Regions from separate parts of the Homo sapiens genome. Here all the other regions are reported to be linked to region 2. The links are microRNA targets in miRTarBase. Many come from high-throughput screens and were not tested one by one. Region 2 holds a microRNA gene; each other region holds the end of a gene's coding sequence.

Region 1 (3,350 bases), not on the chromosome of region 2:
ATTAGCCAGGAAAGGTGGCATGCACCTGTAGTCCTAGCTACTCAGGAGGCTGACGTGGGAGGATTGCTTGAACCTAGGAATTCAAGGCTGCAGTGAGCCATGATCATCCCACTGTTCTCCAGCCTGGGTGACAGAGCGAGGCCCTATCCCAAAAAATTAAAAAATTAAAAAAAAACAACAGCCAAGTATACCATGATGTTTAATCCAACTGACTTTTCCTCTGGCCATGCAGGCAACCGGGTGCAGACACAGCGGTATCCTGTGTCTGGTCGCAGAAACACCTCCATCACAACATTTTGGCAGAAGGCACTCAAACCAGACCCCAACACAACTGGTGACCGCCCTCAGAAACAGCTCAATCTAGTCTTACAAAGCACTTTTAATAAATGACATCTAGATGTACTTCTCAACCATATCATTACAAATCAAATGTGAGTTGGGGAAGTGTAAAAGTTTACACTTTTGTTTGAAGCAAAAGGACTTTCAGAGCATTTTCCAATTCATATATCTTTTCTAAAAGGGAGTGGAGCCTTATGTTCTATTCTTAGAGCAGAAATTCTAGTTTTTGAAAGAGATGCGGATCAGCTCAATTTTAGAACAAGTATGGGAAAGTTGAATAATCTTTCTGAACACGTTTGTGCAGCTCACGCCCTAGGTACGAGATATTAGACGCTAAGCCCAGACCCTGGTGGAGTCAACAGCAGGCCCTTTATCCTGGAGATCTAGAACAGGCATGAGGCCCAGCGCATCCTCAACTGCACATGCTGAGAACCTATGAGCTTGAGATGCAGACGGGAACGGCATCAGTCACAGCTATAATTAACCAGGGCTGGGAAGACATTCACTCTTTAAGAACAATGGCTTTTCTGCTTCTGGAGTGTGTGTGTGTGTGTGTGTGTGTGTGTGTGTGTGTTTCAACAGAATTTGAATACTATTCTTCCTTTTTAAATAAGGAGAATGCATGTAAGTAGTACATCCCTCCTCCCACACTGGAAATAACAGATAGTAGAAAATGTATGTTAATTTAAACCCCAACTAGTAGTTGAGATAGACAAAAAAAAAAACCCACATTTTTTTTTTTGCAAAGTAACTCTTATGAAATAATGGACCCTTTTGGTAATTATCTTCCAAACTCTCAAAATAACTGCATTAAAAAGTACTTACTTTGCCCATGAACACAGCAAACAAATACAAAAACAAAGATTTGGAACTGCTAAAAATATCAAGGACAGGATGCAGACAATTACGATGTCAAGTTATTTATACTGTTAGTAGTTAATGTAAAGACATACACTAAAACTACTCCAAGAATGGGACAAATACGTGGATTTGTAAAATTTTTTTTTTAAGACTGATGACATGGGGGATTTCGCTGGTTCTCATAACCCAGCATCTATTTGGGGGTATCAGTGGGGCCTGGAGGCAGTGGGAGAAAACAAACTTCACAGGGCAGATGCTGCTGGGACCAGGAAAAAGGCTTCATGCCCTAAGGTCCTCACTGTCGTACAGCCCAGTGCAAAGTATCATTCATTCATGACAGATGCATGACGACATGAAAGTCAATATACACAGTTAACCCATTTTGACACATTCATTCCTCAGCATTTTTTCAATACAATTCATCTGAAATTATACTAAGACATAAAACAGACCTGCTTTTGTACATCCATTACTGATATGTCTCCCAGGGTCAGGCAGAAGGAACCAGAATGACTGTCACACAACTGCTAATTGTCGAGACCTGAGACGGACTCACCCATGAGTGCTCCTGCATGCCAGGTACTGCTTGTCGACTCGTGCACACTGGACTCAAAGACTTTTGAAAACTGCTCTTGCCCCTGAAACCTAAAACTCCACGGCCTGTCCTTCAGAATCACTGTAAATCTTTCCAATGATGGACGGATGAATGCCTTCAATGATTAGTTAATCCCATACACTTGGATAGTACGTGTCCGTCATTCCCACCTGGCTGAGGGGGCCCCGGAACAGACTGGTCAGAGGCAGGGCAGTCATGTGGGTGCGGCTCCCAGAGGAGGGCCCAAGTGCAGAAATATCTTCAACTTTTAATATCATCAGAAAATATCTTCAACTTTTAACCCCAGGACAAGAAGTCAGTTGCGAAGTGCACAAAAGAAACACACTGTGGCTCTCCCATCCCCCAGCAGTATGGAGCAAAGACATAGAAAATCAGCAGTGACTAGACAGAATATGTGGCAATGCTTAGGGCAATCTGTTACCCAACACTGAACATCTTTAAATTCCATTCTGGGGAGTCTAAGATGTGTTTGATATCAGACATAAAAATTTACGTGATAAGTAGGAGTCACTTCAAGTTCTAGGTTCATAGGTACCAAAGTGTGTAGCAAAGAAAAAGAACTTTTATTTCTTCAGTAGTTTCTAATGCAGACAAATGTGACAAGGCAGGGAGCTGAGCTGACCCCAAGCCGAAGGGTCCCGACTCCTCTCGGGAGCCTGGAGGAGTCCCGGTAGCGAATAGATCAGATGCCTCATCCTCGTTCACCCCAAAAGGCTGAGACCCTGGTGTGTCCTCCTCGAGGACCCTCCCTGTTTCTGGGTGCTAGAGGCCGTTGCTGTTTCTGTGACAGAGGGATGGCTTTGGGAGCTCCACAGTACCTGACCGAGGTTTGTTGAGGAACTTCGGGGCACGACGCAATAGCCGCTGGGCCTCCTTGAAGGTTTCGTTCAACTCTTTCTTCCACTGCACAAACTCTGGATCACTCTGAGGGGGAATACAAAGGCAGCCGTTGTGACAGGCTCACCCATTTTGCCAACAGCGGAGGCTGCCCCTATTGATTACCAGCGTCCCTGGAACCCCTGAAGGAAGCACACCCTACGTGTCCACCCCCAGTGGCATTACTAGCTGATGGGTCACGCTGCCACCTTCTCCAGAATCTCTTGAAAAGAGCAGGGAAAGGCCACATTAAAACCCTTCAGATGATTCCAGTACAATCCCACTCTGAGAATCACTGCCTTTAATTTGTTTAGAGATTACTTTTGATTTCTAAAACAACTGAAATCTATAATAATATAGGGGAAGGAGTTTTGACAAATTAAAAAATGTTTTAAATATATATTCATGTATGTAATGTAGTACTGATGTTAGTAAAAATGATTTTTTTGCATCTAATACGTGTTTATTTCTCTAAATATGCTCTCTTAAAACACACACACTAGTGAACCAGTCACAAAGTGTCCAGGAATGAAATTTGTGTTACAATGTAACTTTGAGGAAAAGATGGCATTTTCGTTTAGAGAAGATGGCATTTCAGTTTGCCGTCTTATATTTATCTAAATATATAAACCTTAACATCGAACATGCCGAAAAATCT
Region 2 (3,350 bases):
GTGCCGGAGCAAGAAGATCTCAAGCTGTGAGTCTACAAAGGGAAGCCCTTTCTGTTGTCTAAAAGAAAAGAAAGTGCTTCTCTTTGGTGGGTTACGGTTTGAGAAAAGCAACGTTGAAGTTGATGCTGATTTCGGTAATACATTTGCAGAGCATGCTTATCACACTTGGACGATGGTGGGGTTCTGTTTTGGTTTTGCTTTTTTATTCTAAGGCTCTGTGTTGCTCATGCTGGAGTGCAGTGACATGTCCAATATATCTCTTGGCTTCAAATGGTCAGCCTGGGCAACACAGGGAAATTCTGTCTCAAAAAATAAACAAATGAATAAAAATACAAAATAAAGCCGGGCATGGTGGCTCATGCCTGTAATCCCAGCACTTTGGGAGGCCGATGCAGGTAGATCATCTCAGGTCAGGAGTTTGAGACCAGTCTGACCAACGTGGTGAAAATCCGTCTCTACTAAAAATACAATAACAACAAAAATTAGCCCAGTGTGGTGGTGGGCACCTGTAATCCCAGCTACTTAGGAGGCTGAGGCAGGAGAATTGCTTGAACCCGGGAGGCAGAGGCTGCAGTGAGCCGAGATTGTGCCACAGCATCCAGCCAGGATGACAGAGTGAGATTCCGTCTGAAAAAAAAAAAAAAAAAAAAAAGCTGGGCGCTGTGGCTCACGCCTGTAATCCCACCACTTTGAAAGGCCGAGGCGGGTGGATCACGAGGTCAGGAGATCGAGACCATCCTGGCTAACACGGTGAAACCCCATCTCTATTTAAAAATACAAAAAATTAGCGAGGCGTGGTGGTGGGTGCCTGTAGTCCCAGCTACCCGGGAGGCTAAGGCTTGAGAATGGCTTGAACCCAGGAGGCGGAGCTTGCAGTGAGCCGAGATCGTGCCATTGCACTCTAGCCTCGGCAACAGAGCAAGACTCCGTCAAAAAGAAACAAAAACAAAAACAAAAAAAAGAACCCTACAGTACTGGAGCAAGAAGACCTCATGCTGTGACCCTCTAGATGGAAGCACTGTCTGTTGTCTAAGAAAAGATCGTGCATCCCTTTAGAGTGTTACTGTTTGAGAAAAGCAACGTTGAAGATGCTGCTGATCTTGGTAATACATTTGCAGAGCGTGCTTATCATCAGACTTGCATGATGTTGGGGTTCTCTTTGGTTTGTTTTTTTCCAAGACAGGTTCCCTGTTGCCCAGGCGGGAGTGGGTGGCACCTCCAACCGAGATCTCTTGGGCTCAAGTGGTGATCTTTTTATTTTTGATTTTTTGAGATGCGCTCTCATTCCGTTTCCCAGGCTGGAGTGCAGCGGCAGGATCCCTGTTGACCGGAAACTCCGCCTCCCAGCTTCCGGCGATTCTCCCACCTCAGCCTGCCGAATAGTTGGGAATAGAGATGCCCGCCATCGTGTCCTGCTAGTTATTATTTTTATTGTTGTTGTTGTTGTTGAGATGGAGTTTCACTCTTGATGTCCAGGCTGGAGTGCAGTGTTGCAATTTAGGCTCACTGCAACCTCCACCTCCTGGGTTCAAGCGATTCTCCTGCCGCAGCCTCCTGGGTAGCTGGGATTACAGGTGCCTACTGCCCCACCCAGCTAATTTTTGTGTTTTGAATAGAGACTGGGTTTCACCATGTTGGGCAGGCTGGTCTCAAACTCCCGACCTCAGGTGATCCACCAGCCTTGGCCTCCTAAAGTGCTGGGATTACAGGCGTGAGCCACCGCCCCTAATCTCACGTGGTCCTCTAGAGTCAGCCTAGACTCTGGTCTATCCTGGAGGATGTTTGTGTGTGAGACAATGTATATTCTTCAACATCAGCCCAATTCTCTTAGCTAAATGTAAGGTATGAGTAGTAGGTATTCCTTTTTCTCTTTGGGGACAAAACTCAGGACGATCGCCCCTTGATGAACAAGGCTAACCTGCTGAGCCTTTGAAGCAAGGAATTGGAGATGGTCCTTTCAGGGGTTTATGTTCTGGATTCCATAAAACATGTAAACAGGGCCAATAAATGCATTTTTATTTTTGTATCCGTTTTAACCTGGTCAAGGAAAATTCCAACAAGAAACCCAGAGTGCTGGAGCAAGAAGATCCCATGCTGTGACCCTCTAGAGGAAGCACTTTCTGTTTGTTGTCTGAGAAAAAACAAAGTGCTTCCCTTTAGAGTGTTACCGTTTGGGAAAAGCAGTGTTGAAGTTGATGCTGATGTTGGTAATATATTTGCATGCTTATTATCAGACTTGGATGATGTTGGGGTTCTGTTTTGTTTTTGTTTTCTAAGACAGGGTCTCTGTGGCCCAGGCTGGAGTACAGAGGCACTTCCAACCTAGGTCTCTTGGGCTCATATGGTCCTTTTTGGGACAGTCTTCCTCTGTGACCCAGGCTGGAGTGCAGTGGCACGATCTTGGCTCACTGCAATCTCCACCTCGCGGGTTCAAGCTATTCTCCTGCCTCAGCTTCCTGAATAGCTGGGATTGCAGGGGCCCGACATCACACTTGGCTAATATTTGTATTTTTCTTTTTTATTCATTTATTTATTTTTGAGATGGAGTCTCGTTTCCCCAGCTGGAGAGCGGTGGCATGATCCCGACTGACTCCAACCTCTGCCTCTCAGGTTCAAGCAATTCTCCTGCCTCAGCCTCTGAAGTAGCTGAAACTACAGGTGGCCGCCACCACGCCTGGCTACGTTTTGAATTTTTTTTTTTTTTTTTTTCAGTAGAGATGGGGCTTACCATGTTGGCCAGGCTGGTCTCAAACCCCTGACCTCAAGTGAGCCACTCACCTTGGCCTCCGAAAATGCTGAGAATACAGGCATGAGCCACCACCGCGCGCCTCCCAAAGGCGTGAGCCATGGTGCGTGGCCATCAACACCTCTTACTTTATGGAAATTTTTCTGGCACTGGTATAGAACCTCACATGGGGTCAGGTGGAGTTGAGGGGACCTCAGTGTCCCTGCAGATGGGATGAGCAAGAGCACGGAGGTGGAGTGCATGGGGCTTCAGTGTGTATTGGGGAAATGAAGCTGAAATCTTGGGTGCATGACCAGGAGATAAATGCATGAGACGGGGGTCTCACTATGCTGCCCTGGCTAAAGTGGTCTTAGATCCTCCTGCCTCTGCCCCTCCCAGGCCTTGTTAGATGGGACTACATGTAAATATTAACCCATGCACAGGCAGGAAGAAAGTAAGGACCATTTTTTGGTTCGTCCCGGCCCTCAGTTAAACTTGTGTTTTAGATAAACAATGTATTTGAGATGTGCTTAAACAATAAATGATACGCTATTTAGGTGTGGGCATCTTTGTTTCCCCCTAATTTTAATGATGGGACTAGTCCAGGTATGGTGGCTCCTGCCTA
Region 3 (3,000 bases), not on the chromosome of region 2:
TCAAGCAATCCTCCTGCTTTAGTCTCCTGAGTAGCTGGGACTATAGGCACACACCACCAAGCCTGGCCGATTTTTATATTTTGTAGAGTCAAGGTCTTCCCATGTTGCCCAGCTGGTCTTGAAGTCCTGAGCTCAAATGATCCACCTACCTCAGCCTCCCAAAGTGCTGGGATTATAGGTGTGAGCCACGGCACCCGGCTCATTTATCATTTCTTTGTGTTAGGAACATTCCAATTCCACTCCTCTATTTTGAAATGTACAATAAATTTTTGTTAACTATAGTTGCTCTACTGTGCCACTGAACTACTAGATCTTATTCCTTCTAATGGGATTTTTGTACCCAGGGAAGGTATTTCAATGGTGACAGACACCCCGTGAGGTATATGTAAAAAAGGGCAAGCGTTAAAATAGTGGAGCGGTGGGGAGGCTGCCCTTGCAAGTGGACACACTCTGGCTCTCACTTAGGGTAAAAGAAATTGTCTGATGGGAGAAAGAGAGCTAAAAACCACACACAGACACACACACACACACACACACACACACACACACACACACACAAAGTGCCTCATCTGTCTGAGAAGTGAGGTGGCTACTGTTTTTTTCAATAAGTCTTCTTACCCAGCTGATGATGAAATTACCTGGCTACTAACACTGGAGTTGCAACTTACAAGCAGAGTAATGAGTGTTTCTAGGAAGTGCTGCAGCTCTCTGAAGAAAAAGAGTTACATCAATATAATAATAAATAAACAACATTATTTCAAACACAACTACAAATTTATACAAAGTTGTTTTTATTTCCCACCCCATGACCCAATCATTTGGCATTAAAACCGAAAAACGAGGCAAGAAAACCAAGAATAAAAAGTGAAGAAATTTTTGTATTATAATGTATTCAACCATTTGTTCTGATTATCTAAGAGAAAAAAAGTATTAGGAAATCCAACTTCAACAGAAAAATTCAAAACGCTTCCAAGGAAAATCAGAAAACTGATCTGCTTAGCCAGAGACCAGTGGTTCACAGTGTTTGATTCTGTGGTTTTTAAATTCCAGGTCCTTGTCTCACCCTAATGTCCCACACTCCAAATGAAACCAGCAGTGCACCAACAATACCCATCCCTCCTCAACCTCGGCTGGGCACCGCAACAAACCAAAAACATTCTTGGTTTTCTTGTTTTAAGGAAATCTTTTTTCTTTTTTTCTATATGCTAATCTTCTCTATATCATTTTAATTTTAGTATATGTGCTGCTGAAGTGAGCACATTTTACGGAGTTTTAAGCTAAAGTTTCTTTTCTCACACATTGTCATATAAAAGGGGTATTTCTGCTTTGTCCCCTCCCTGCCATCATACCAAAAAATAAATAAGTACATAAATACAAATTAGAAAAGCTTAAATAAGACCGGTTTTTAAAACCCAATAAAGCAAGATGAGACAGAACTAGGCCCGAAGGGACTGGGAGAAGATTCTAAAATGGAGAGGGGGGAAAAAAAACCAGAAAAAAACGGGTTTCCAAAAACACTGAAACCCATGGTATGTGATAACTTTCTAACCATCTGGACTTTGGTAGGAGTGTCACGTTTTCCAAAGCTGACTTCTGGAAATCTTAACCTGGATTCAGAAAAATTCCAGCAAAGTGAGCCAACAGCCAGGAAGCGGTTATTTTGCAAGAGAAAGGGGGTAATTCCATTTACAAACATATATAAATAGAAATAAAGGCCACACACCTGGGAGAAAAGTTCACTAAAAACTCCCACCCCAACTTGAACTTTCCTAGCTGCTAGATTTTTTCTGCCTGTTAAAAAACTAAAAATTACTGAAGATCAGGCACAAAGAGCAAAAGAGCATGTGTATATTTGGGGAAGAAATCGTCATGGTATGCTGGAAAGTTACTGAAATCCACGGAAAAGGCTTCATCTGCACTCTTTCAAGAGGCCAAGGGAAGCCATTTTCGAATCCAACTCAAGTCACAGTCGTCATCAATTCAATCCCCAGAGAGGATTTAGTCAGCAAGGGCCGACCTATGCCACAAACTGATTTTACTACACGCCTTGCACACCTGCCAGTAATAGCAATATCTACTTGAAAACTTTGCTTCACAGACCTTCCACTGCCTTTCCCAGTTGCCTGAGTAATTCTCTTCAGGCAACTTGCAATGACTTAATTATCATCTCTGGCTCCAGAAATGGGAACCACTTAGTTGGCACAGCTTAGAAGTATAATGGCTGCTTCTGCTGGTTTCTGCAGCTCATGTTGGCTTTTTTTTTTTTTTTTTGAGACAGAGTCTTGCTTTGTCAACAGGCTGGAGTGCAGTGGCGTGATCTCGGCTCACTGCAACCTCCACCTCCCGGGTTCAAGCGATTCTCCTGCCTTAGCCTCCTGAGTAGCTGGGACTACAGGCGTGCACCGCCACACCCGGCTAATTTTTTTGTATTTTAGTAGAGACGGGGTTTCACCATGTTGGCCAGGATGGTCTTGATCTCCTGACCTCATGATCCACCCGCCTCGGCCTCCCAAAGTGCTTGGATTACAGGTGTGAACCACCGCACCCGGTCTGGAGGTCTTAATGGTCCCCCAGAGTCACCCGCTCCACCTGCAGAGTGGCAGTACCACCGTAACTTGCTCTACACAGGCAACAAGGCCATTTTCAGCTGTTACTCAGAAACTTGCTTCTTGGTGATATTAGGTTTAAAAGACAAGAAAGAAATCTTATTCTACAGGGTTGGAGAAAGGGAAAATTATAACACAAAAGCCCACTTCAGTCTCTGTTGATTCTGCAAGAGTCACAGCTGAGTTCTGAGGCCGCCTTTCTTCTCACCAGCCCATCTCCAAGCTGTGCAGTCACAGGAAGAACAGGTTCTCGCACAGCTGGATGGCTGGTTCATGATGCAAGATGTGTCCTGACAGGAAAGCTAGCTTGTGGGCATACTTGCAAGGAGCTGGAACTCTGATGGTGCCAGGCCAATTCCAGTACATGTGGCACAGTTTGAAAGTCAGCCTGTAG

The links. Region 2 holds the annotated microRNA hsa-miR-520g-3p (ACAAAGUGCUUCCCUUUAGAGUGU, at 2,142-2,165, shown strand). A microRNA usually pairs through its seed, bases 2 to 8, with sites in the 3' UTR of a target mRNA and lowers its output. Matches are read on the target gene's strand: a 7mer-m8 pairs with bases 2 to 8, a 7mer-A1 pairs with bases 2 to 7 and ends in A, and an 8mer does both.
Region 1: miRTarBase lists GRK3 as a target of hsa-miR-520g-3p. Seed matches in the 3' UTR shown: 7mer-m8 at 2,352-2,358.
Region 3: miRTarBase lists PIWIL2 as a target of hsa-miR-520g-3p. Seed matches in the 3' UTR shown: 7mer-m8 at 2,511-2,517 and 7mer-m8 at 1,629-1,635.

The regions. Positions count from the first base shown.
Region 1 is chr22:25,721,679-25,725,028 of GRCh38, reverse strand. GRK3 (G protein-coupled receptor kinase 3) reads right to left here. Exons shown (of 21, transcript NM_005160.4): 21 at 1-2,740. The coding sequence ends at 2,579. Among named protein-coding and RNA genes, the nearest start is that of MYO18B, 19 kb to the left of the region's middle.
Region 2 is chr19:53,720,079-53,723,428 of GRCh38, forward strand. It overlaps MIR520G (microRNA 520g), which reads left to right and starts at 2,088; the gene lies at 2,088-2,177. It overlaps MIR517B (microRNA 517b), which reads left to right and starts at 998; the gene lies at 998-1,064. MIR520D (microRNA 520d) reads left to right here and starts at 18; the gene lies at 18-104.
Region 3 is chr8:22,355,343-22,358,342 of GRCh38, reverse strand. It overlaps PIWIL2 (piwi like RNA-mediated gene silencing 2), which reads right to left. Exons shown (of 23, transcript NM_018068.5): 23 at 775-2,994. The coding sequence ends at 2,838. Among named protein-coding and RNA genes, the nearest start is that of SLC39A14, 10 kb to the left of the region's middle.